7 linked regions of the Homo sapiens genome follow. The gene in region 5 interacts genetically with the main gene of each other region. Each region holds a gene or a part of one and is shown on either strand. Other genes may lie near its edges.

Region 1 (2,982 bases), on a different chromosome or scaffold from region 5:
TCAGAACTGTTTTGCTGCAGCTCAGCCAATGGCCAGTGGCTGGCTCCTTTTGCTGTTTTTGCTGTCATACCCCCCACCCTGTCCCTCCATTGTGCCTGGGGGCCCACAGTGGGTGCTGCCCCCCATGTGCACCTGTTGGGGGCCAGGGTCAGCCCTCAGTGCCTTCCACGTGCCACTCGCAGGTGACATACCAGCTGAAGATCCTGACCACAGCGCTGTTCTCCGTGCTCATGCTGAATCGCAGCCTTTCCCGGCTGCAGTGGGCCTCCCTGCTGCTCCTCTTCACTGGCGTCGCCATTGTCCAGGCACAGCAAGCCGGTGGGGGAGGCCCACGGCCACTGGATCAGAACCCTGGGGCAGGCCTGGCAGCCGTCGTGGCCTCCTGTCTCTCCTCCGGCTTCGCAGGTGTCTACTTTGAGAAGATCCTCAAAGGCAGCTCAGGCTCCGTGTGGCTGCGCAACCTGCAACTGGGCCTCTTCGGCACAGCACTGGGCCTGGTGGGGCTCTGGTGGGCTGAGGGTACCGCCGTGGCCACCCGTGGTTTCTTTTTTGGGTACACACCTGCTGTCTGGGGCGTGGTGCTCAACCAGGCCTTCGGCGGGCTACTGGTGGCTGTGGTTGTCAAGTACGCTGACAATATCCTCAAGGGCTTTGCCACCTCCCTGTCCATTGTGCTGTCCACTGTTGCCTCCATTCGCCTCTTTGGCTTCCACGTGGACCCATTATTTGCCCTTGGCGCTGGACTCGTCATTGGTGCTGTCTACCTCTACAGCCTTCCCCGAGGTGCAGCCAAAGCCATAGCCTCTGCCTCTGCCTCCGCCTCCGGGCCCTGCGTTCACCAGCAGCCTCCCGGGCAGCCACCACCACCGCAGCTGTCTTCCCACCGTGGAGACCTCATCACGGAGCCCTTTCTGCCAAAGTCAGTGCTGGTGAAGTGAGGGCTGGCAGCAATGGGGGGACACAAGGGAGGGGGACTGGGGTGGAGGGTGTTGGGCATCTGCAGGACCCAAGTCGCCACCCTCCGGGGCCTGGCTCCTCTGGGTTTGGGAGATGGTCTTTTCTCCCAGGTCACTGAGACTTCTGGAGGGGTGTGGGACTAGAGCTGGGTGTCACGTGAACCCTTCCTGGTAGGGTGACCCCCTTCCCCTGGAGGGGGTTTTAGAGCTGCCGCCTCTGCTCCCTCTAACCTCTTTGGAGGCAGGGTTGGGGGTATTGTCATTCAAGGCCTTTTTTTTGTCTGCTCCCTCCCCGACCCTGTGCCCTCTTCTGGAGGTTTCTCGTCTGGGAGAGTCCCTCCCAGCAGTCCCTCCACCTCCATAAGGACACACTGGACAAAACTCCCGCAGCTCTTCAGGAATGACCGATGCCTACCTGTGGGGTTCAGTTGCCCATAGTTTGAGGCCTTCTCTCCTCCCTTACCACCGCTCTGGATCATGTTACTAGTTCCGTCTTTTGTGTGGCCTTGGGCCAGCTTCCTTGATACCTTGAAGATGGGCTTCTTGTGAGTCCCCAGGGAGAAAGGGACAAGAGCTAAGATTTTTGCATCAGCCCTTCTGGCAGAAGGTGTGGTAGGGGCCATTTGTTTTTTTTAGTGGACTTGGGATTTGTGGTGTAATCATATCATTAATGATCCAGGGTGTGGGAAAAATGGAGGTCCTTGAAGTGGCTGAATCTCATTGTATTTAAGACACTGTCAGTTGCCAGATGTAGGCTTATTTTTGGAGATGTCTAGGAGAGGAAAAAGCTACCAATCATACTCTTGATATCCGTCTGGCTGTGTGAGGCACCCCTACCTCATGGGGGTGTCTTGGGATTGATGAACTGTGGAACCTGCCTCCTGCGCTCCCCAAAGCTTATTAACCCCTTAACTGTATCGGGGCGGGGTGTGTGTGTGCATGGAAGATGCCTGGGCTGTCTTTGCTATATGTAAATAGAGCCATTGGATCTTTATTTTTGATTAATTTGTTCTGATTTTTTGGTTTGTTTTTTAAGGAACTGTAATGAACAAATGTCAGGATATCCAATGCCAAATAAAGATGTTGTATTTATTTAGTCCACGTGTAGCTTTCTGACCAGGTGGGCACCATTACTAACCCCAGGACTACCAGCCTCACCACCGCCGCCCTCACTTGCTCAGGAAACCCGCCTGCCAGCCTAGCCCAGCTTTGTGTTTTTCTTTCCTCCCCATTCCCACCACAGGTTGCTCACCAAGGTGAAGGGTTCCTAGCCGCTGGGATTGAAGACATTGGCCTGGCCTCGTTCTCTCTTCTTGCCCTTGGCCCAGCTGGGACCAAACTCTGATCAGTATTAGGGGTAGAGTGAGGTAGACACTGGACTCCCTGTCCCCACCACCCCTGCCCCACCCAGGGCCAACATGACTAAGCTCTCTCATGACCCACCTCAGCTCAGCCCCCCAGCCCCTGCCAGCTCCACACTATCTCTTAGCTGAGTTTTTGCAAATAAAATGTGTTGTGTATCTTGCCGACTTGGGTTGGGCAGCCTCAAAGGAAGCACTCAGGTATGGTGGGCAGGATCACCAGAAAGCTTTTATTTTAACCCAGGGCCAGGGAGGCCGAAGCTTCAATCCTGCTGCTTGGTTCGGGAGGCCTCTGCATTGGCCCGGAGCACAGCCCCTGGGGATGGATACGGCCGCTGCTGGAAGAGGGGCCCAGCTGCTGTGGTGTCAGCGCCAGTCTTGGCCTCATTCCGCTTGGGGAGTCCTGTTGACCACGTGCCCCTGCCGGTGAAAGAGTCAGGGGATGGGGATGGGTGATGTGGCGGACACAGCCCACCTGGTCCCAATGAGGAATGGAGGAAGGAGGCCGGAGGATGGTGTCCACGTACTGAGTCAAGAGGGGTTGTCACTTACCGGGGGGCGTCTGAGTATGAGCTAGGGTCCATGGGGTCTAACTCTTCATCCTTTCGGCTTACTGCTGTGGAAGTGGCAGGGCAAAGTCTTCAATAGAGGCACCAGGATCCCCT
Region 2 (4,147 bases), on a different chromosome or scaffold from region 5:
CCTCATTCAGATCTCACCCTAAATGTCACCTCTGTAAGGACACATTCCCTGACCCTCAGACCAGGGTGGGAGGTCTCCCATTACAGTTCCCAAAAACGCCCTGGGACTCTCCTTGATGCATTTCTCAGTCTTGCAATTTTCTTAGTAATTTGTAGTTATTTAGTGGCTGCCTTCCCCAAAGGCCTGCTGCTCTAACTCACCACTGGATCCCCAGTGCTCAGCACAGTGTTTAGCATATGATGAGTGCTCAGTAAGAATTTGCTAGCTGACTGCCTAGGGAAGAGTGGCATAGGGGTATTGAAGCCAGGAGTTTGCTTCCATTCCTAGACACCTGGATAGCATTGCTACCTCCAGGTTGCTTAGTCTCTCAGGGCCTCAGCACCTGAGGCCAGCATAATCTGCCAGTGGCATCCTCTGCAGAAAAAAAAAAAAAAAAAACACCTCAGATTTTCAGCTACTCTGAGAAGAAATCAGCTGGTGAAGTTTCTTCTGTCTTCACCCCATTCATGGCCTGGCCATGATGACCAAAGACCCAAGCTGAACCCTGAATCAGCCAGGGTTCTGCCAGGAAACAGCACATTTAACTTGGGCAAGTTGAGGAGAGTTTAATGAAGGGACCACTAATGTGTAGGCTGGGTGCAGAGAAATGAAAAGCAATGGTAAGGAATTCCAAGGCCAGTAACAGTAGAGGAGGAGCCAGTTACCACTCATAGACCTTAAGAGTCTGGAGAGAGAAGTAGTCACAGAACCTTGAAACATCAAGGGTAACACAGAGGGCAGCTTTCTAGAATTCAATGCTTTCCACCGGGGGCAAAGCCAGCCTTCAATAACTTCTCAGGGAGGGAGCGGAGAGAATCAATACCCTGACCTCACTCTCCCCTCATTCCAACACAATGGAAGCAAGACGGTAGGACAGCTGGTATTTATTCCACACAGGACAGCCACACAGGGCACAGAGCACGGTGGAGGGGCTGAAACAGAAGATATCCAACCCATGCCATCCCCTCTGTGAGGCTAGCAGTTAAGTATAGTGAAAATGCAGAGGTTGGGCTCTGAAGTCAGGCAGACATGGGCTTGAATCAAGGCTCCTCAACTTCTGGCTGTATGACCTTGTCAAAGGACTTATTGGCTCTGAGTCTTAAGTTACTTCTATAAAATGAGCATGATAACATCTACTGCATATGCATTTAAAAATTACTAAGGCCAGGCACGGTGGCTCAAGCCTGTAATCCCAGCACTCTGGGAGGCCGAGGTGGGTGGATCACCTGAGGTCAGGAGTTCCAGACCAGCGTGGCCAACATGGTGGACCATCATCTCTACTAAAAATACAAAAATTAGCCCAGTGTGGTGGCAGGCACCTGTAATCCCAGCTACTCAGGAGGCTGAGGCACGAGAATCGCTTGAACCCGGGAGTCAGAGGTTGCAGTGAGCCAAGATCGCGCCACTGCACTCCAGCCTGGGCAACAGAGCGAGACTCCATCTCAAAAAAAAATAAAAATAAAAATTACATAAACCGGGAGCAGTGGCTCACATCTGTAATCCCAGCACTTTGGGAAACAGGTGGGAGGATCACTTAAGCCCAGGAGTTCAAGGCTGCAGGGAGCCATGATGGGCCACTGCACTCCCGCCTGGGCAACAGAGCAAGCCCTCATCCCTTAAAAAAACAAAAACAAAACAGTAAAGATTCCAAAAGATGATGCTCGTAAAGCACTGAGCACAGCATCTGGTACACAGTGAGCGCTTTCATTCATGGTAATTGTGTTACTATGACTCACCCTTCTCCACAACTCTCTGCTGTCCTGCCTCCATCCAGGACACCCCAGGGAAAAGAAAGACCTGCCTATTCCTGTTAAGGTCTAAATGACAAGCGAGACCGAGGGTCTGGACTTTAACAGGACTATGAGGAGTGGGGTGAAGGAGCATGAAAGTAAGGCCTCCACTCTCCACCCTCGCCATGCCTCTAGAGTGGCTGCCTTCCCTACCGGCAAGTTGGGGGTTACCGGGAGTCTCCCGTGTTTCTCGTCTGTTTTTCATGCAGGGAGCTGAGCAAGACTGGCCTCCTTAAGACAGTGGTCCAGCAGCGTGGACTCCAGACTGGGCTTTGGCGTCAGAGAGACAGGCTTCTGCCACGTATCAGAAGCGCAAACTTAGGCGGGGCCTGAGCATCTTCATCTGTGAAATGGAGACACTAAACGGAACCGATCTGACAGGGTTTGTGGGAGCATTAAATGGGATAATGATGTAAATAAAGCACGATGCACAGTTCCTGGCTCCTAATACGGCCACAACAATGTCGGTATTTGATATAATGTTATTAATAATAAATTGCTTATCACCAGAGGGTATGCCTCAGCAGCGCTTACCGCACTGTCCCTCCTGGCTACCAGCCACGGGCTGAGGGCGGCCTGAACGCGGCCCAACCACCCCCGGGCTCCCGTCCACCGGCCCTCAGCCCACCGGCCCCCTTTCGCGGGCCACCAGCGGGCGGTGCGCGGGGAGAGAAGTCGGGGAGACGCGCCCGGGGAGACGCCAAGAAGGGGCGAGTCGCGCACCGCCGGCCTTCGCGCAGGTCCAGAGCGTCGCCCGGGTGGACCTCAGCTCGCCCCATCATCTCATGCACCGCCCCCGGCCCACACTCACCCTCCACGCCGCGGACGGGAAGTCCCAGCACCCACAGCAATACTTGCCACCAGCCGAGGAGCCGCATGACGCGGGGCGGTCGTCGACCGGCAGCCGGGACCATTGCCCAGGCCGAGAGGCAATCGGCGCACGGCTACGCGAGTCGTGCTGCCAGCCGGAGGAAGGCTGGGGGAGGAGAGCCTGGGAGCGCGGGCGCGGCCCCGCGCCGCCATCTTAACACCTGGCAGCTGTGGCGGGCGCCATCTTGGAGTCGGGCGGACGGCCTCTAGCCGCTGGCCGTCGGCGCTGGACTGGAGACCTCTTTAGGAGCTAAGCGCCAGACGTTGCAGGTCGTTTTGAACTCTGCTGACCCCAGAGTGCAGAGCATGGCTCTGGCAGAGGCCCATGGCCTCCTTTCTTCCCTCGGAAGTCAGAGCTTGGCTACTTGAAGCACTGCGCCCGCCTAAGGAGGGTTTTCCACGCTTCATTCCCAGAGCCAGAAAGGCCCAGGAGCCTTCCTGTTCTAGTGTCCCATCGAGGTGCAGAAACTTTGGAGGCTGCAAATCTTCTAATCGCTTGCCTAACCTGTGCTCCCCTACCTAGGGTTGCCACATAGAATACCTGATACCCAGTTATATTTGAATTTCACATAATGAATATTTTTTACTATAACCCTTATAGTATAAGGGATATACCTTAAAACTGAGCATCCTGTAACTTCGTGACATCTGGCAACCCTAACCCTACCTATCCACTCAGGGCAGGAGAGGTTGGTTTTAACTGATTTACCTTGCAGGGCAATCTCTTTTTAATCATGGTTGGGGCCGTGAGCATCATTGGCTCTGGCTCATGGTGGAGGTGGAGCCACCTCGAGCATAAAGTAGATAGGAAAGGGCTTAGAATGAAGAAAGCATAGATGGGGAGATGAGGAACAGGGCTCTGCATTCCCAAGCAAACGCACAGAGCGGGAGTCTTAAGAGAAAATTCTTGGAATAGAGAGGATGACACCACTAATTGGGGTATTTTGCCGGGGGGCCTGCTAAAATGGAATAAGGCAAGCTTTAAGCAGCCACCAGTCAGTGCTAAATCAGTGCAGAGTGCAGCTTTTCAAACTTATGAGGTTGAAAAAATAGAAACTGATTTAAAATACATCAGTCTATTGGTTAACATAGCAATGGTAAGGGGAACCTGTGCTTTTTGGCCGCTTGGTGAATCCCAACTTCAGCACATGTGATAGTTCACAGTCAGCAGGTTATGTAACTTAAAGTTAAGTTTCTTCAGCTGTAAAGTGGAAATGACGTTATATAGAGTCTTATAGATGAAATGAGATGTAAAGTGATGAGCACAGTGTCCTGGGGCACAGGAAGCATTTCAAAGTGGTAGGCATTATTAATTGAATAATACAATTCTGATGGTGTGGCCATAGTCCCCTTATCTCTATGCCCATCAAAAAGACACTGTTAGGCCAGAAAGATGCATCATTAATCTGTCCCTGTGGATGATTCTTTTATTCTAAATACGTTGGTAT
Region 3 (3,500 bases), on a different chromosome or scaffold from region 5:
TATTTTTTAAATAATCTGTTGGCTTGTTTACTCATAAATTCACAAAGATTATTTGGTAAACCAAGAAAATCAATTAAGTTTATCATACTGTATACTTGGCCATTTTTTCAAATAGAAAAATAGTATTATTAAATTTAGTTTCATGAATCAGTTTGCACATTATCCAATATAGGCAAAGATATTTAATATCATGCTAACTTCAATTGAAAATGATTCCTTAGTTTCTACTATTTGTCTAACCCTCAAGACTCTTGATTAACAGCCTCAGAATATTAACTTGAACATTTAATATTTGAGTAGTTGAATGGCCTTATATACCATACATCCACAATTTCTCAAAGAATGTGCACTGGCACACTAATGTGCAACAGTGGTTTATAGATGGGTGGAAATATTGATTGACTCAGCCCTCAGGAATGACAGAGCCTATAGCCAGTTAACAGCTGCCTCATCCATTTACAGTCCTAGAAAAACGAAATTTTCTGTGTGACATAACTTGAAAAAGGCTGAAAGTACTTTTATACAGCCATAAAATAAACTATACCAATGAAGTGCTAATCACTCAGACAGTATAAGCAGGGTTAGAATGGCTATCACGACTATCATAAGTAACACCCTAACCACTAGGTTACACATGACCTAATTGCGGGCAATTTTGCTAAATCATCCTGTAACTATAGCACAGACATAAATTTAAACTAAAATCTGAGTCTAGAAATACTAATATATGCTAACCATGACAGCTTCAAAGTTAAGGACTATTGCTTGGTATTTTCTTTTACACCAGAGACTATCTTGGCAACTATGAGATTAGATGTTCAATCTCAAAAAAAAAAAAAAAAAAAAAAAAAAAAAAAGGTTTTTGTTCACCTCTGAATATTTTATTTCTCCCTTTGAGCTGACTTACTTCAAATAAATTTCAATGACTTACTGAAGGAGACATAGCCTAAGAATTCAATTTTCTCTTAGAAAAAATGAGAAACTAATCCATATCAACAATTTCCAAATTTCAGTATCATTTTATTTACTCCTCTTAATAGAGAAATGGTTAAAGTCTAAAAGTTGCAAAGGAAAAATATTAAGTGCACTTTGCCAGCTTTTATAGCCACCCCCACAAAAAAGAAAATAAAAATAAACAAATTACCTATTGGACTGGTTTTCCTGCACAAATGGGTAACAAGTAATCAGGTAGCTGGGAATTGGAGTTGGTTCCACACCAGAAACACTTCCATTATCATTTGGGAGAGCCATAGGGATCATAAATGTATCAGGACTCTTCTTCTGGGGAATAAATGGCTCCACCTCAGCTGACAGCTTGACATTCTTCAAAGAGAAAGTAGAATACATTAATAACAAATGAGCAAGCAACTTCCTACAAATTCAAAATTTAACAACAGAAGAGTCAGTCCTTATAAACAGTAATTAGGTCTCTTCTCAGCATTCATAAAACATCCAAAAGGAAGAGCAATGTCAATTTTAAAATAACTGAATAATGATCAAGTTATTTAGACAAAGCCATCAAATAAGGAAAATAAACCAAATGTTACATTTCAATGTAATTAAAGCTGTTAAAACAATCAAGAGAACACAGAAGTTATACCTCAGGTTCTAAAAATAAAGTTGGTAGTAAGAGATGTAGCTCTTCAGACAAAACAATGTGTTTTTAACTCATTTTGTTGGGGGAAAAATTGAACAAAATTATGAAGGATAATTATTACTCTATATTTGTTTGAATAGTCTTAAAAGTTGTCTATTTCTGTCCATTTCTGGAAATTAGATCAGTATCATTAAAAGAAAAAATGTCTAAGATGAAAAAATACTTAACATTAACAAGAAAAAATCTGCACAGTTAAACTGGGGAAAATATGAGTACTTCAGTTTCCCAGTACACATGTGAGTAAACTAAAGTAATCCAAGATATGTAATCCATTTTAGTTTACTTTGTATCTTTTCTTACAAGAAATCTATAGAGATTTAAAAGACATAAAAAAAAAAAAAACCCTGTAGTATTTAGGGATGCACATATGGGCAACAAAACTATAAAGAAAAGTAAATAAAATCCATAAAAGTCAGGATAGGAATTATTCTTAGCAAAGAGAGTTGTGATTAAGAGGAATCTGGAGAGCTTCCAGGGTGCCTGGCAAAGTTCTATATCCTAACCAGGATAAAATTTACAAGGTGTTTGTCCTGTAACAATTCATCAAGCTGTACATTGGTTTTATGCAGTTTCTATATGTTATAGTTAACAACAAATTTAACATTTTAAATTATTTTTTGAAATCATTAAGTACATTCTGTAAAAAATCATATAAATATTATAATATCAAATGATATGAAACATGTTTTAATGAAACCAGTAAGTGAAATGCAAGCTAATGTTTTTAACTACTGTAAAAAATTACCTTAAAAGCCATGGTCCTAGCCAGAACTTTTTCCCAACAAACCCACTAGGGTGATATTTATTAGAGGCTCCCACCAAAACATAGTTGTAAGAATAAATTTCATGTTTCTCACAAAAGCAGCTAGTAAGGAATCCAAGTAAAAAATCTGAAGATGAGATATGCTCATTTGTTTCAGAAAAATTAACTTCTCTAAAAAGTTCACTGTAAATATTTATAAATGCTTGTTAAAAGGGAAGGGGTGGGGATGGTAAAATCTGAACTGTCCAGCAGTATTAATTCAGTATCCTTCCTCCCTACCTGATTTGAGGTTTACATTTGTACTATTAACCAAATCAGAAGTAGATATACTATAATAATAATACAAATATTAGTGAACTGAAGTTGGTTTCTTAAAGATTAACATAAGAGGCAAAAATATCTTCAAACTCTAATGATACAAGCTAGTAATTTTCACTCTGTGATATTCATTAGAACCCAAACTCACTTATATAGGACACAATATATCAAAACAATAAATATTTCCCCAATTAGGAAAAAGAAAAGCCGACGTACAGCAATAATGCAAAGATAATGGAAGCTTGCTTTATACAGTTCACACATACATGCATAAGAAAAGAAACTGAAATCACAGTTTAACTGCACTAAAAATGTAATTTTTAGGATTTCTTTTTTTTTTCTTTCTTTTTTTTTTTTTTAGACAGGGTCTCGCTCTGTCACGGGGTGGAGGTGGAGGTGGGGTGCAGTGGTGTCATCATGGCTCATTGCAGCCTCAATCTCCTGGACTCAAGTGATCCTCCCACCTCAGCCTCCCAAGTAGTCAGGACTACAGGTGCACATCACCATACCCAGCAAACTTTTTAATGTAGAGATGGGGTTTTGCCACGTTTCCCAGGCTGGTCTTGAACTCCTGGGCTCAAGTGATCCTCCCACCTCAGCCTCCCAAAGTGCTGGGATTATAGGCATGAGCCTGGCCAGGATTTCTTTTAAAAAACAAAAAGTTCTTTACGACATATGAGAACTCACTGAGCAGTTTTATAAATCTGAGCTAGTAGACATTCGGGGTTTTTTTCAGCAAGGTATATGGGTACATCAAATTAT
Region 4 (3,500 bases), about 22 Mb from region 5:
GGTCAGTTTGACCAGATTGCAGCTAAGAAACCAAAAACTTAGTTCACTCACATTGGTTTATTTGTGTAAAACCAGATCATCTGTTTTAAAGAATCGTGACTTTGTTTTTCTGAAAATGAAACAAACTCATTAATAAAATATTACAGCAGTACAGAAGATAGAAAGATGAAAATAACAACCCAACATCTTACCACCAGAAATAACCAGGGTAAACACTGAAGCATCTCTCCATGTCTGCACACACAGGGATGCCATTATATATTATGTAATTAGATGACTGGGTTCATACCATCTGTGTTACTTTTTAATAAATTACTAAGTTTTAACACAAGAAAAAGAAACAAGTGAAATTTTATCAGTGTTTTTTTTTTTTTTTTTTTTTTTTTTTTACTACACAAGAGTCACTTTTTTTTTTTTTATTATACTTTAAGTTTTAGGGTACATATGCACATTGTGAGGTTAGTTACATATGTATACATGTGCCATGCTGGTGTGCTGCACCCACTAACTTGTCATCTAGAAGAGTCACTCTTTAAGATTCCTCTGTAGTTAAAAAAAAAAAAAAATGGAGGTTGGTGATATCTCCAGGCACATTTCTGGTCTTATATAAAGTGATTTCACATTGCCCGAGGTCTTTCTTTTTGCCTTTCCTAAGGTTAAACATGCTTTCTTGGTCATGAAAGTCCTATCTGTGTTCCGGATATGGAAACTGGAGACTTAACTGAAAGAAAAGGACAATTGATAAATGAGTACATCACAGCTGTTCCAGATAAAGAAGGGGCAGAGACATTAAAGTTCTGGGTGTGTCTGTGTGATAGTAACAGCAGTTCTTGCATGATTTATGGTAGAGAGATATATTTGTATTGGTTCCAGTTCCATTGGTTTGTGAAATATTAATATGCCAACACAGCCTAGCATATTGGAGTCACTGGAAATGCATCAGTGCTAGCCTTACATGCCTTTCACTCTATGGTGTTAACCTGCCTTTTTCTAAGTCTAATCTCCACTTACCCCAGCTGTATCACACTTTTTCTTTCCAAAATTCCTAATCCTCTGTCTTCACTCCCCTCACTTTTAGCTAACAGCCTGGCCTTATGCTGTCACTTGGGACTCTGTCATATTTCCTGACAAATCTACACACCTGTGGGTATCTGAACCAGTCTTCCCTCCTGTAGACCAGTAAATGTTGCTCCAACTACCACAGGCCCTTTTTTTAAGGACTGAGTGCCTTTGCTTGTCCCTGCTACTTTGTCATCAGCCTGTCCCCTTTCTTGTGTTATTTGATTAGCAGTCATGTCCACTTTAAATTCCTCTTGCCTGTCACCTGACGTTTCCCTCTGCAACTCCCCATGTCTTTGCTCCTCTCAGTAGCTATCATCTCCACGTCTTCACTTACACTGGCAGCTCTGAGACCTGGCTTCTGCTACTGCCCTTCGCCTGGACTGTTTTTGTGGAGGTCTCCACTGACTGCTGAATCCAGTGGACCATCTTCAGAGCTCATCTTCTTGATGTCCCCATAGTTTTCAGCACAGGTGACCACTCTTTCCTTCTTTGGACTCTGCTACACTGCACGCCTGGATTTCCTTTTACATCTTTGAATGGCTCCATCTCGGTCTCCTCTGAAGGCTTTCTTTCAACACCTTGCTCTTCAAGGCTTTGTCTGTGCTTCTCTTTTCTTCTCATTACCTTCTTGAAGAATTGCCTTCTCCCACACCTGGAGCTCCACATCGTTTCATGACACCTGTATAGAGACAGCTCCCAGCTTCGTATCACCACCCTGGACCACTGCAGCTGCAGGTCTCACACCCAGTTGCCTACTCAGTATCCACAGTTGGAAGACTCCATGGCACCTCACAGTAAACACACATTCATAAGGGTCGCAGGGGCAAACCGTGCTGGTATCTAGATGGTTACAGAGAACAGTAAACAAAATAGCAAAGAGGCCAATGTGACAGGAGGAAAGGAGTGGGAAATCTGGTGGAAGATGAGGGCTGGGTCATGGGCCATCCGCACACAGGGACTTGTGAGCCGTGATGAGGACATTGGCACACAGAGGAAGCCCTGGCATGGTTTTGAGCAAAAAAGTGAAACAGCCTATCTGATACCCTAGCAAAATTACTTTTGCATGGTGTGAAAAAATACATTGAACAGCAGTAAGAACAGAAGCAGGGAGACCAGTTAGGAGATTGACGCAGGTGAAAGGTGATAGTGACTCTGACCATGTTGGGAGCCATGACCTGCGAAGTGTCTGGATTCTGGGTATCTTCTGAAGGGAGAGCACACTGGATCTAGCAGAAGTTCATATGCAGGGTGAGTGAGAAAGAGAAGACTCCAGGTAGAGCTCAGGGGGTTTGGTCAGAGTAAATAGGTAGAGTTGCTAATGAGTGAGAGGGACAGAACTGTGGAGAAATACCTTCTGGGGAAGGTCAGCAGTGGTTATGTTAAGCCCAAAGTGCCCATCAGACATGGAGTGCAGAGCAGCAGCTGGATATACAAGTCTGAAGTGTGAGGGAGAGTACTGAGCTAGAGATAAATGTTTGAGTCTTGGGGTATGGATATTATATGAAGCATTTCAGTGTGAAGAGGTCAGAAACTAGCAAAGACTAGTCTGAGAAAGAGTGGCCAGTGAGGAAGAGGCAGGCTGGAAGAGCCTAGAGTCCTGGAAACCAGGGAAGAAATTGCTTATGTAGGAGGTCAGCCTGTGACATGCCGCTGCTGACAGGCCAGACCAGATAACAGAACACTGATCCTTTGACTTCGTTATGTAGAGGTATTATGACTTGGTGAGTAGTTTCAGGGGAGTGTGGGGTAAAATGCCTGCTTGAAGGAGGTTCCAGACAGGTGGACACGGCCTAGATGACTGTTTTGAGGAGTTTTTCTCTGAAGAGGGACTAAGAAACAAGATGGTGGCTGGAGAAAGAAATTGGTCAAGAGAAGAATATTTCAGTTTAAGATTACTGAGATCAATTTCTGAATAACATCTGGCTAAGTATAAAACATCCTTTCTCCTACTGGTTGACAGTACTGTATCATATACCAGGTTCCCATTTGTACCTAGATCTGTTTTTAAACTGTCTCTTCCATTCCATTGGTATATTTGCTCATTCCTCAGACTCTTTTGATTTTGTCTGTTTTTATCACTGTTTTGGAATACAGGTTTATCACTAGTGTCTGTTTTTATCACTGTTTTGGAATATGGGTTTCTCCAAAATTATTGCTAGAATCTTAATTGGAACTGCATTAAATTTTCTGATGAATGTGGAGGGAAATGTCATCCATGAACATGAGCTCTCTATTTAAATCTCCCTTTGTGTCCTTTAATGGAATTCCTATAAAGCCCTTGTACCTTTATGGAACCTTTAAAGGGAATTTTCAGACATCCTATAGATTTTGTTGCTGTTATGAATGGGGTTGTCTTTTCTGTTATATTTTCTACTTGATTATTGCTGATTCATAAGAATATTATTATTTTCTCTAAACTGACCTTATATCCAGGAGTC
Region 5 (3,500 bases):
GTGTATATATCTATTTCCATCCAGGACTTGGACACATGCTGTTTTCAGTATACTTTATTAGGAGAAAATCAGAGATAATGTTCTTTTAGAGGGACAAGAAGTGAAAACTATTAATTTGAATATTATCACTAAAGTACCAGGATAATCAGCCTTTCAGGAAGCAGCTATTGGGCACCTGCTATATCCAAGCCATTCTTATTTTATAAAGTATTTCTTGAAAGAACAGACAGTCAAAGCAGTGTGTTTTTTAATTGTGCAGATGGCTCTTTTCTGTAGTTTAGATACCAAATTATTAGCTGGGCATTTTAATCCTAGTTTAATTAGTGAGCAAGACAGGTTTTTATATTGTGAATTTAAGTTTAAAAAAAAAATCCCCCCCAAAAACAAACCATACCCAGAAACAGGATTCTTTTATTCTTGTTACTATAACAGTTATATTGTTGACTCTTGCAGTTCTTTGAAGTGTTGTAAGTAGGTTATTATATCTCAGAGAACAGAATTTCCTGAAATAATCACATTGAGTTTATTTACTTATTTAGTTTTACTTTATTTTTTAATATTCTTCATGTAGTAAAACACAAACATCAGAAAATACCAGAGATTCAGTCATATATTAGTCAAGTATAGCTAGATATGGCTAGGGGTCATAATAATGAATTAGATAGATTTCAGGATACTACCAAATAGAGATGCACAAAATATATTTTGAAATACTGGGCATTGACCTCAGGTGCTCTTTCAGCTTTGTCCTTATTCTTCCTACAGGACTTTGTTTATATTATTGGAGTAGTAAAGTGGTAACATTTTATTATGGATATTGACACAGATCCCCAGCAAGACTTTAGCTCTTTGAAGTCTGAGACCACTTTGCTTTATTCTTTTTGAATTTTAGAACCTAAGAAAGCACCCAGTACATTGTAGTTAATCAGAAAACTTATGATAGTATTGATATAGTATATCAAAACACCTTTGAGTCAACGGAACCAATTGTAAGGATAAAAACCCATAGATCCCACAGTCTTCTTGAGAGTTAAATTAGCTTGAAAGAATTGTTAGTGTCTTGCAACCCCTAAGATATCCTTTTTATTGATAAATCCCTGTGCCACTAATGAAGTGATCAGTAGAAAGTAGATTACCTCTAAGCTATTCAGTTTAGTTTCCAGGAGGGGTTTTATTTTAAATCCACAGCCTCCTACCAATTTGTGATAGTGGCCCAACAAAAAGACAGGGTGTTTCTCCTACTTTGTAATTCAACCAATTTCCCTCTTTTGGGTCTATCAAACCACTGTGTTCTTGGTAAGGGGATGCCAGGGACATAATACATAATGTCACACACAAACTCTGAAAACCAGTTCATTATTCTGCTTTTTAAAGACATGTTTAAAATATCTATATAGACACTCTAAAAACATTTATTTCAACTACTCTTATTGTTAAAAAGTTTCTTGTTATTCATTAATTAAACAGAGGACATTCTGTTTGAGAAAGGATCCTTTGTGTAGGCAAGAATTATAACTTCCTTTAGAGTTGAAAGGCATGTGAATGTGTTTTGCACAAATTTTTTACGTTTGCTGGTTCATTTACTAAGTAAGTCAAATGCCCTACATATTGTTTATTAAATCTCTGCCTTTAATGTAAATTTTCAGCTTAAGTTGAGGTGGATTGAGGGATATAGATGCTACCACAGAGGAAAATTATTGAATTCTGAAATGTATTTTGTGTTTTAACATTTATTTGGGTGGTTTTTTAATTCAGGAAAATATAAAGAAGAAAAAATGGCCCAAAATCTCACTGATAAAATAACGTTTTTTGATACTTTGTTTCTGGTCCACATGCATTTATTAGCAAGCAAGCATAAACACATTTGTTGACATTAAAAAAATAGAAATACATACAATTATTAGATAATTGAAACTGTATAAAAATAAAATCCTTCCTTACCACCTTTCTCTCTCCAAAAATTTCTTGTTATCCTTCCAAGAAAATTTTTAATGCATCTATATATCTTCTAAAGAAATTATACAAAAGGATTTGTGCTGTACACTGTGTTCAGCATTTTGCTTTTTGTTTTCATTTCATATATCTTGGCAACTTTTTTTATGTCAGCATATGCAGATCTACCTCATTGTTTTTTAATGGCTTGATTATGTGGATGGGCCTTTTTTTTTTACTAGTCTTATATTGATAAACATTTAGATTGTTTCTAGTTTTGTTGCAACATTGCAGTGAACATCTGATTCACATATTTTGGCATAGGATAATTTCTGAGCAGTTGAATTGCTGGATCAAAGGGTATGTTCCTTCAAAATTTTGAAAGACTTTTTTTTAAGTTGCCATCCAAAGGCAAGACCAGTTTTCACTCCTGTCTACAGAGAGTACAGCATACTGGTTTTCTCATACTCTTGCCACTATTAGCATCTACCAATCCCAGTAAGTGAGCTAAATAATATTTGTAAGGAAGGGGGAAATATGTGGGGTTTTTAAAATACTCTGAAATTAGAAAAATGTTGAAAAGGTTAGTATCCTTATTTTTAATTCTTTTTTATGTTTTACATATTAAGAGATGAAATTGGCCTGATCCCATGTCCTGAAGCTAGGTATAACCGGAGTCCCATAGTCCTGGTTGAAAACAAACTGGGTGTGGAGAGCTGGTGTGTCAAGTTCCTTTTACCATATGTCCACAACAAGCTCCTTTTGTACAGAACAAGAAAGCAATGGCTGAACAGAGATGGTAAGTATGAATCATATTTTCTTCATTTGGTTTTTAGAAGCGACATGGAATATAGTAGGAAGAGCCCTTCTCTGAGTGTCAGCATTCCTGGATTCTAGTTCTGCTTCTTCTGTTCACTGTCTCGGTGGGTGCTAACCTTTCTGTCAAGTGAGTAGTTTCTACTCACCTGGACAAATTTTACAACCACAGTGATTATATAGAAGCCCTCAAGCAGAATTTCAGGGCACCTCCTGTAACCAGAGCAGTTCAGATTTTATCAGTTTATGTATTGGGGTCATTGGTAAGATTTCATTTGAAGGAAAAAAAAAAATCTGAATGTCACTGAAGAAGACTCTAGTCCCTATAGGCTCAGTCTCTGGTTTCTAATCCTTTAGTATTTTTATAGGCAGCAAAACTCATTTTCATAGTAGTCCAAATGAGATAATGTAGGCATGATAGTGGTAGTGATATTATGAACCAGCCCAGTGATTTATGGATGTGCCATTCCACTGCAAGTTCCAGTTGAGCTCTGGCCGTTTGTATCCTGTTCCTGTGCTGAAATGAGCAAAACAAAACTATCCGGCATTCACTTCTTCCATTTCTCTCAGACAGTTTTTTTTTTTACTGCATCAGACAATCCCTAATCATTCCATCTGGTCTCTTTTCTTGGTGTTCTGCCATATTAAGCCTCCATGTGCACAAATTCTGTTTATCATTGTATGCCCACCTCAGGTCTCACTTTTTGGGAGAAGACTAATTTAAGACCATGTCCTTTACTGTTTTTGTAAAG
Region 6 (3,500 bases), on a different chromosome or scaffold from region 5:
TTAAGAGCCTACTTTACAGACCTCTATGCAGATAAATGTGAAAATCTACATGAAATGAAATGGATTATTTCCTAGAAAAAAACAGCTTAACAAAATTGACACCCTTAGAGATAAACTGCTTAAACATACTATATTCATAGGAAAAAAAAAAAAAGAAAAAGTGTTATCAGGGAGCTTCCCCATTTTAAAAAAGAAAAGAACTAGCTCATATGATTTTGCAGGGAATTCTACAAATCGTTCAAAGAATAGGTAATCTAAATGATCCACAGTTCTCTGTATTTGTTTTGTCTTGTTTTTTTTGTTTTTTTTTTTTTCTCAGACAGGGTATTGCCCTGTCATCCAGGCTAGGATGCAGTGGCACAATTATAGCTCACTGCAGCCTCGAATTCATGAGTTCAAGTGATCCTCCTGCCTCAGCCTCCCAAGTAGCTAGGACTACAAGTATGCGCCACCATGGCCAGAGAATTTTTAAATTTCTTTTTTGTAGGGACATCGATCATTATATTCCCCAGGTGAGTCCTGGGGATCCTCCTGGATTCAAGGGCTCCTCCTGCCTTGGTCTCCCAAAGTGCTGGATTACAGCCATGAGCCACTGAGTCTAGCCTGATGCACATATTGTTCCAAAGCACTGAAAATACTGGAAAAACATCCGAAATCTTTTATTAAGCAACCATAATACTGACACCTAAAACCTGATCAAAAGACAACACTCACACAAATACAGGTCAATATCAAGCTGTGCTTCATGACCTATATCCTCTTAAGTGATTCTGATGTCACAATTGGCTTATCTGGCCAGATATGGTGGCTCACATGTGTAATTCCAGCACTTTGGGAGGCTGATGCGGGAGGCTTGCTTGAGTTCAGGAGTTCAAGACCTGCTTGAGCAACATAGCAAGACCTTGTCTCTAAAAAATATTAAAAAATTAGACAGGGATAGTGTCACACCCCTGCAATCCCAGCTACTCAGGAGGCTAAGGCAGCAGGATCCCTTGAGCCCATGAGTTTGAGGTTATAGTGAGCTATGATCATGCTACTGCACTCCAGCCTGGGTGACAGAGCTAGATCCTCTCTCAAAAAAAAAAAGAAAGAAAAAGAAAAATAGCATTATTATATATCATGAGTCTGAATGTCTAGTTGAGCCTAAGACCCCTAGTGAGTACTACACTGCTTATAATTATTATTATAAAAGTGAATAAAGGCATGAAATATAAAATCATGTTTTAGAACATGCATACTACTGTATTCTTTGATCTTTATAGTACTGACATCTTAAAGTATATGCCTTTGCTATTTTATTAATCTCTTATAAAAATAAATTCAATATTTACTGAATTTACTGAATTGCCAGTATTTACTGAATTCCAAGAAATTCAATATTTACAACATAGAAAGACAAAAGTATATGTTCTCAAACTTTTGAAAATCAGATCTTTTCACAATCGAATGTAGAGGTTGGCAAGCTTTTTCTCTGAAGTCATTAGCAAATATTTTAGATTTTAGAGGCCATACAATCTCCGTTTCAACTATATACAACTCTGCTGTGGTAGCTGGAAATCAGCCACAGATAAAACATAAACAAATGAGTATGGCTGTGTGTCAGTAAAGCTTTATTTAAGGACACTGACATTTGAATTTCTTTTTTGTTTGTTTGTAGAGGCGGTGCCTTGCTATGTTGTGTAGGCTGGTCTCAAACTCGTAGCCTGAAGCAATCTTCCTGCCTTGGCTCCCAAAGCACTGGGATTATAGGCAGGAGCCACCACACCTGGCCTGAAATTTGAATTTCATGTAATTTTCACAAGTCACAAAATATTCTTTTCAATAATTTGAAAATGTGAAAACCATTCTTAGTTCAAAAGCCTTATAAAAACAGACAATGGACCAAATTTGGTCTTTGGGCTGTAGTTTGTCAACTCCTAATTTAATGAAAGGCAGAGACCCCATCCATATATGACAAACATATGTACGTGTATGCACAAATTTGCATCCAGTTTCTGGAAGTTGGGTCTATTTGCTCTCTAACGTCCTTGTTAACTTTAAAACTCTATGATCATTTTCAAACTCATTCTAATTAGAGGTCCTTTTTGGAATACTCCAATTACCTGAACTCATCACTCTAAGACAGGTTTTACAAAAACCTCTCCCCCACATACTGTGAGTTCTTACCTTCTTTTTGCTCTTTTTCTTTTGAAGAAATTTCAGGTCATTAGCGGAGTTAGCATATTCTATCTTTTAATTTCTACACTACTTCAAAGGTCTTCTAACTGTTCCATTTTCTACAAAGCATCCCACACAATGTGCTCATATCAGTCTTTCTAACACAAAGAGTGCTCAAAAGCCAACTGCCTGCTGTTTTTTATTTAATTTTTTTCAGTGACAGGTCTTGTTCTGTAGCCCATGCTGGAGTGCCCAGGCAAAACTCAATGCAGCCTCAAACTCCTGGGCTTAAACAATCCTCCAGTTTCAGCTTCCTGAGTAGCTGGGACTACAGGTGTGTGCCAGCATGCTCAACTACTTTTTAAATTGTTTGTAGAGATGGGAGTCTCGTTATGTTTCCCAGGCTGGTCTTGAACTCCTGGCCTCAAGTAATCCTTCTGTCACAGCCTCCCAAAGTGTTGGGATTCTGGGTATGAGCCACTGTGCCAGGCCTGTTTTTTTTTTTCTTAATTAATTTTTTTGTCCATTTTAAAAAATAATTTTTCAAAAAAGGTTAAATAAAACCTTAGCCTGGCTTTCAAGATGCTCTATTGTATGGCTACTGATATGGTTTGACTCTGTGTCCCCACCCAAATCTCATCTTGTAGCTCCCGTAATTCCCATGTGTTGTGGGAGGGGCCTGGTGGGAGATAATTGAATCATGGGGGTGGGTCTTTCCTGTGCTGTTCTCATGACGGTGAATAAGTCTCATGAGATCTGATGGTTTTATTTTTATTTTTTGGGGGATGGAGTATTACTCTGTCACCCAGGCAGCCTGGAGTGCAGTGGCACAGTCTTGGCTCACTGCAACCTCAGCCTCCCAGGTTCAAGTGATTCTCCTGCCTCAGCTTCCCAGGTAGCTGGGATTACAAGCACACGCCACCACTCCTGGCTAATTTCTGTATTTTTAGTAGAGATGGTATTTCACCACGTTGGGCAGGATGGTCTCGAACTCCTGAACTCAAGTGATCCACCCGCCTTGGCCTCCCAAAGTGCTAGGATTACAGGCATGAGCCACTACGCCTGGCTGAGATCTGATGGTTTTAAAAATGGGAGTTTCCCCGCACAAGCTCTCTCTCTTTGCCTGCTGCCATCCACGTGAGACATGACTTGCTCCTCCTTGCCTTCCGCCATGATTGTCCCCAGCTACGTGGAACTATAAGTCCATTAAACCTCTTTCTTTGGTAAATTGCCCAGTCTTGGGTATGACTTTATCAGCAGCATGAAAATGGACTAATACAGCTACTATTCCTCTGTACCACCTTACGGACTCTTACCAAGTGAAATTTGTTCACTGTTAAAAG
Region 7 (2,549 bases), on a different chromosome or scaffold from region 5:
CCTGTAATCCCAGCACTTTGGGAGGCTGAGGTGGGCAGATCACCTGAGGTCAGGAGTTCAAGACCAGCCTGGCCAACATGATGAAACCCCATCTCTACTAAAAATACAAAAATTAGCTGGGCATGATGGTGGATGCCTATAATCCCAGCTACTCGGGAGACTGAGGCAAGAGAATCACTTGAACTTGGGAGGCGGAGGTTGCAGTGAGCAGAGATCATGCCACTGCACTCCAGCCTGGATGACAGAGCAAGACTCCGTCTCAAAAAAAAAAAAAAAAAAAAAGGATGTAAAAATGACCAATTAGTAAGAACTATGAGGAATGAACAGACTTGAAAAAAGGAAATTTTTTTAGATATGAAAAGCCAGTTTTAGAAAGTCAACAGATTAACAAGAATTATACAATGAATTAGAATTTATAACTGAAGAAAGGACTCAGAATGTAGCACAGACAGAAGATGGAAAATTTTGAGATAGTAGGAGATACAGAAATCTAATTAATGTATCTAGGCACTGAAATTGATGGCTACTAACATCACAAAGAGAGCCAAGAAGACATTATGTGCTTCCTGATGGAAATACATACCACTACCTCTCAAATATCCCTGTAGAAAAAAAAAAACTAATTTAAATCTGACCAAGCCTTTCCATCTAATTACACACTTATGAGAAATACACCAGACAGAGGAAGTTTGGCCACACCATGGAATGCAGTCAGCAAAATCTAAACTGTACATCATTCTAGATGACAAATGACTCAATAACTCAGTTTCTTCCAAAAATAAATTGCAGAGGAGATGGAAGGGAAATCTATAGACTAAAAAAAGACACATATATGGACTTTATATGGATCCTGATTTGAACCATAAAAATCATTTATGAAGGCCAGGCACAGTGGCTCATGCCTGTAATCCCAGCATTTTGGGAGGCTGAGGCGGGTAGATCACCTGAGGTCAGGAGTTTGAGACCAGCCTGGCCAACATGGTGAAATCCTGTCTCTACTAAAAATACAAAAATTAGCTGGGCGTGGTGGTGGGTGTCTATAATCCCAGCTACTCAGGAGACTGAGGCAGGAGAATTGCTTGAACCCGGGAGGCAGATGTTGGAGTGTGCCAAGATCGGGCCATTGCACTCCAGCCTGGAGGCAACAAGAGTGAAACTGTGTCTCAAAAAAAAAAAAAAAAAAATCACTTATGAAATAACTGGGAAAATCTGAATAGTTATTTTAGATAAGATAATTTTTTTAAGTGTGATAATGTATTGTAGTTTTTAAAACCATCTGTTACCAGGTGTGGTGGCACACACCTGTAGTCCCAGTTACTTAGGAGGCTGAGGTGGGAGGATCACTTGAGCCCAGGAGTTCGAGGCTGCAGGGAGTTATATCATGCTACTACACTCCAGCCTGGGCACTACAGCAAGGCCCTATCTCAAAAATAATTTTCTTAATAAAAATAACATTCTGATACAGATGAAGTGATAATATTCATCTGTATATGTATAAGATTTAATTCAAAGTAACTGGGGGACACAGAAGGAGGATAAGCAATAGGTGTTGGTATAGATGAAACAAAACTGTCCGTGAACTGCTATACACCGAATATCACTGATGATGCCTGGGGGTTCACTATGCTTTTCTAATAGCATAGTGAAATTTCCCATAATAAAATGTTAATTTTTGTTTAATGTAAAAGGGAGATTCAAACAAAAAAACTCATAAAAGCAAACAACCCAGACAGAAAGATCTGGTAAGAAGAAAGTGAAATTATTATTCCATTTAAAAATAAATTATTAATACTAAAATTAGCCAGGTGTGGTGGTGCATGCCTGTAACCCCAGCTACTCAGGGAGACTGAAGCAGAAGAATCACTTGAACCGGGAGGCAGAGGTTGTAGTGAGCCAAGATCATGTCACTGCACTCCAGCCTGGGCGACAGAGCAGCAACTTGTCTCAGTAAATAAATAAATAAATAAATAAATAAAAATTGTATCTTTTCTATTCTTCCCTCAAAATATTCACTTATATCCACTGAGGGTGTCAAATAACTAATATGCTGCAAGGAAGGATCTTTCTATAATCAAGGCATCTTTGTGATGTGATTTTGGACAGAGATTAAATAACCAAATTCAACCTATTACAGTTGCCTAAATGCAGTCTCACACACACATATACAAACAATAATGTAGCAGTGTACGGTGGGGCACAGGGAGTAGACTTGCCAAAGAAAAGTTGAACTAACAGTGATGACCCCTGCTAGGCAGGAGCCATAAATTATATAATGTGTTGTAAGCATGATATATACACCTGATTTTGAAGACTTCATCTTAGAATAAATTTTAAGTATATCTTTTTTTTCTTTTTTTTTTTCGGAAACAGGGTCTTGCTCCATCACCCACGCTGGAGTGCAGTGGCACAATCACAGCTCACTACAACCTCAACTTTCCTGGCTCAGTGATTATCCCACCTCAGCCTCCTGAGTAGCTGGGACTAACAGGCATGTGCCAACATGTCCCACTCATTTTTTTTTTATTTTTTGTAGAGATGGGGTTTCACCA

The links.
Region 1: changes in PTAR1 (region 5) and SLC35A2 are lethal when combined (synthetic lethality), as found in Homo sapiens cells (one study listed by BioGRID).
Region 2: changes in PTAR1 (region 5) and TXNDC15 are lethal when combined (synthetic lethality), as found in Homo sapiens cells (one study listed by BioGRID).
Region 3: changes in PTAR1 (region 5) and SECISBP2L are lethal when combined (synthetic lethality), as found in Homo sapiens cells (one study listed by BioGRID).
Region 4: changes in PTAR1 (region 5) and SPTLC1 are lethal when combined (synthetic lethality), as found in Homo sapiens cells (one study listed by BioGRID).
Region 6: changes in PTAR1 (region 5) and TRAPPC13 are lethal when combined (synthetic lethality), as found in Homo sapiens cells (one study listed by BioGRID).
Region 7: changes in PTAR1 (region 5) and VPS52 are lethal when combined (synthetic lethality), as found in Homo sapiens cells (one study listed by BioGRID).

What each region holds. Positions count from the first base shown.
Region 1 is NC_000023.11:48,902,683-48,905,664, reverse strand, and holds the end of SLC35A2 (UDP-galactose translocator), read left to right. Parts: intron 1-182; coding exon 183-919; coding exon of another isoform or gene 920-1,075; exon of another isoform or gene 1,076-2,199; coding exon 2,200-2,227; coding exon of another isoform or gene 2,228-2,301; 3' UTR 2,302-2,482; downstream 2,483-2,982. Other genes in the region: PQBP1 (polyglutamine-binding protein 1), read right to left, coding at 2,581-2,737, 2,870-2,933. UniProt on the Homo sapiens protein: Transports uridine diphosphate galactose (UDP-galactose) from the cytosol into the Golgi apparatus, functioning as an antiporter that exchanges UDP-galactose for UMP.
Region 2 is NC_000005.10:134,873,024-134,877,170, reverse strand, and holds the start of TXNDC15 (thioredoxin domain-containing protein 15 isoform 1 precursor), read right to left. Parts: upstream 2,801-4,147; 5' UTR 2,744-2,800; coding exon 2,641-2,743; intron 2,341-2,640; exon of another isoform or gene 2,039-2,340; intron 1,928-2,038; exon of another isoform or gene 1,773-1,927; intron 1-1,772. UniProt on the Homo sapiens protein: Acts as a positive regulator of ciliary hedgehog signaling. Involved in ciliogenesis.
Region 3 is NC_000015.10:49,036,447-49,039,946, forward strand, and holds part of SECISBP2L (selenocysteine insertion sequence-binding protein 2-like), read right to left. Parts: intron 1,324-3,500; coding exon 1,145-1,323; intron 1-1,144. UniProt on the Homo sapiens protein: Binds SECIS (Sec insertion sequence) elements present on selenocysteine (Sec) protein mRNAs, but does not promote Sec incorporation into selenoproteins in vitro.
Region 4 is NC_000009.12:92,042,414-92,045,913, reverse strand, and holds part of SPTLC1 (serine palmitoyltransferase 1), read left to right. Parts: intron 1-3,500. UniProt on the Homo sapiens protein: Component of the serine palmitoyltransferase multisubunit enzyme (SPT) that catalyzes the initial and rate-limiting step in sphingolipid biosynthesis by condensing L-serine and activated acyl-CoA (most commonly palmitoyl-CoA) to form long-chain bases.
Region 5 is NC_000009.12:69,750,012-69,753,511, reverse strand, and holds part of PTAR1 (protein prenyltransferase alpha subunit repeat-containing protein 1), read left to right. Parts: intron 1-2,561; coding exon 2,562-2,731; intron 2,732-3,500.
Region 6 is NC_000005.10:65,638,527-65,642,026, reverse strand, and holds part of TRAPPC13 (trafficking protein particle complex subunit 13), read right to left. Parts: intron 1-3,500.
Region 7 is NC_000006.12:33,252,328-33,254,876, forward strand, and holds part of VPS52 (vacuolar protein sorting-associated protein 52 homolog), read right to left. Parts: exon of another isoform or gene 2,371-2,549; intron 1-2,370. UniProt on the Homo sapiens protein: Acts as a component of the GARP complex that is involved in retrograde transport from early and late endosomes to the trans-Golgi network (TGN).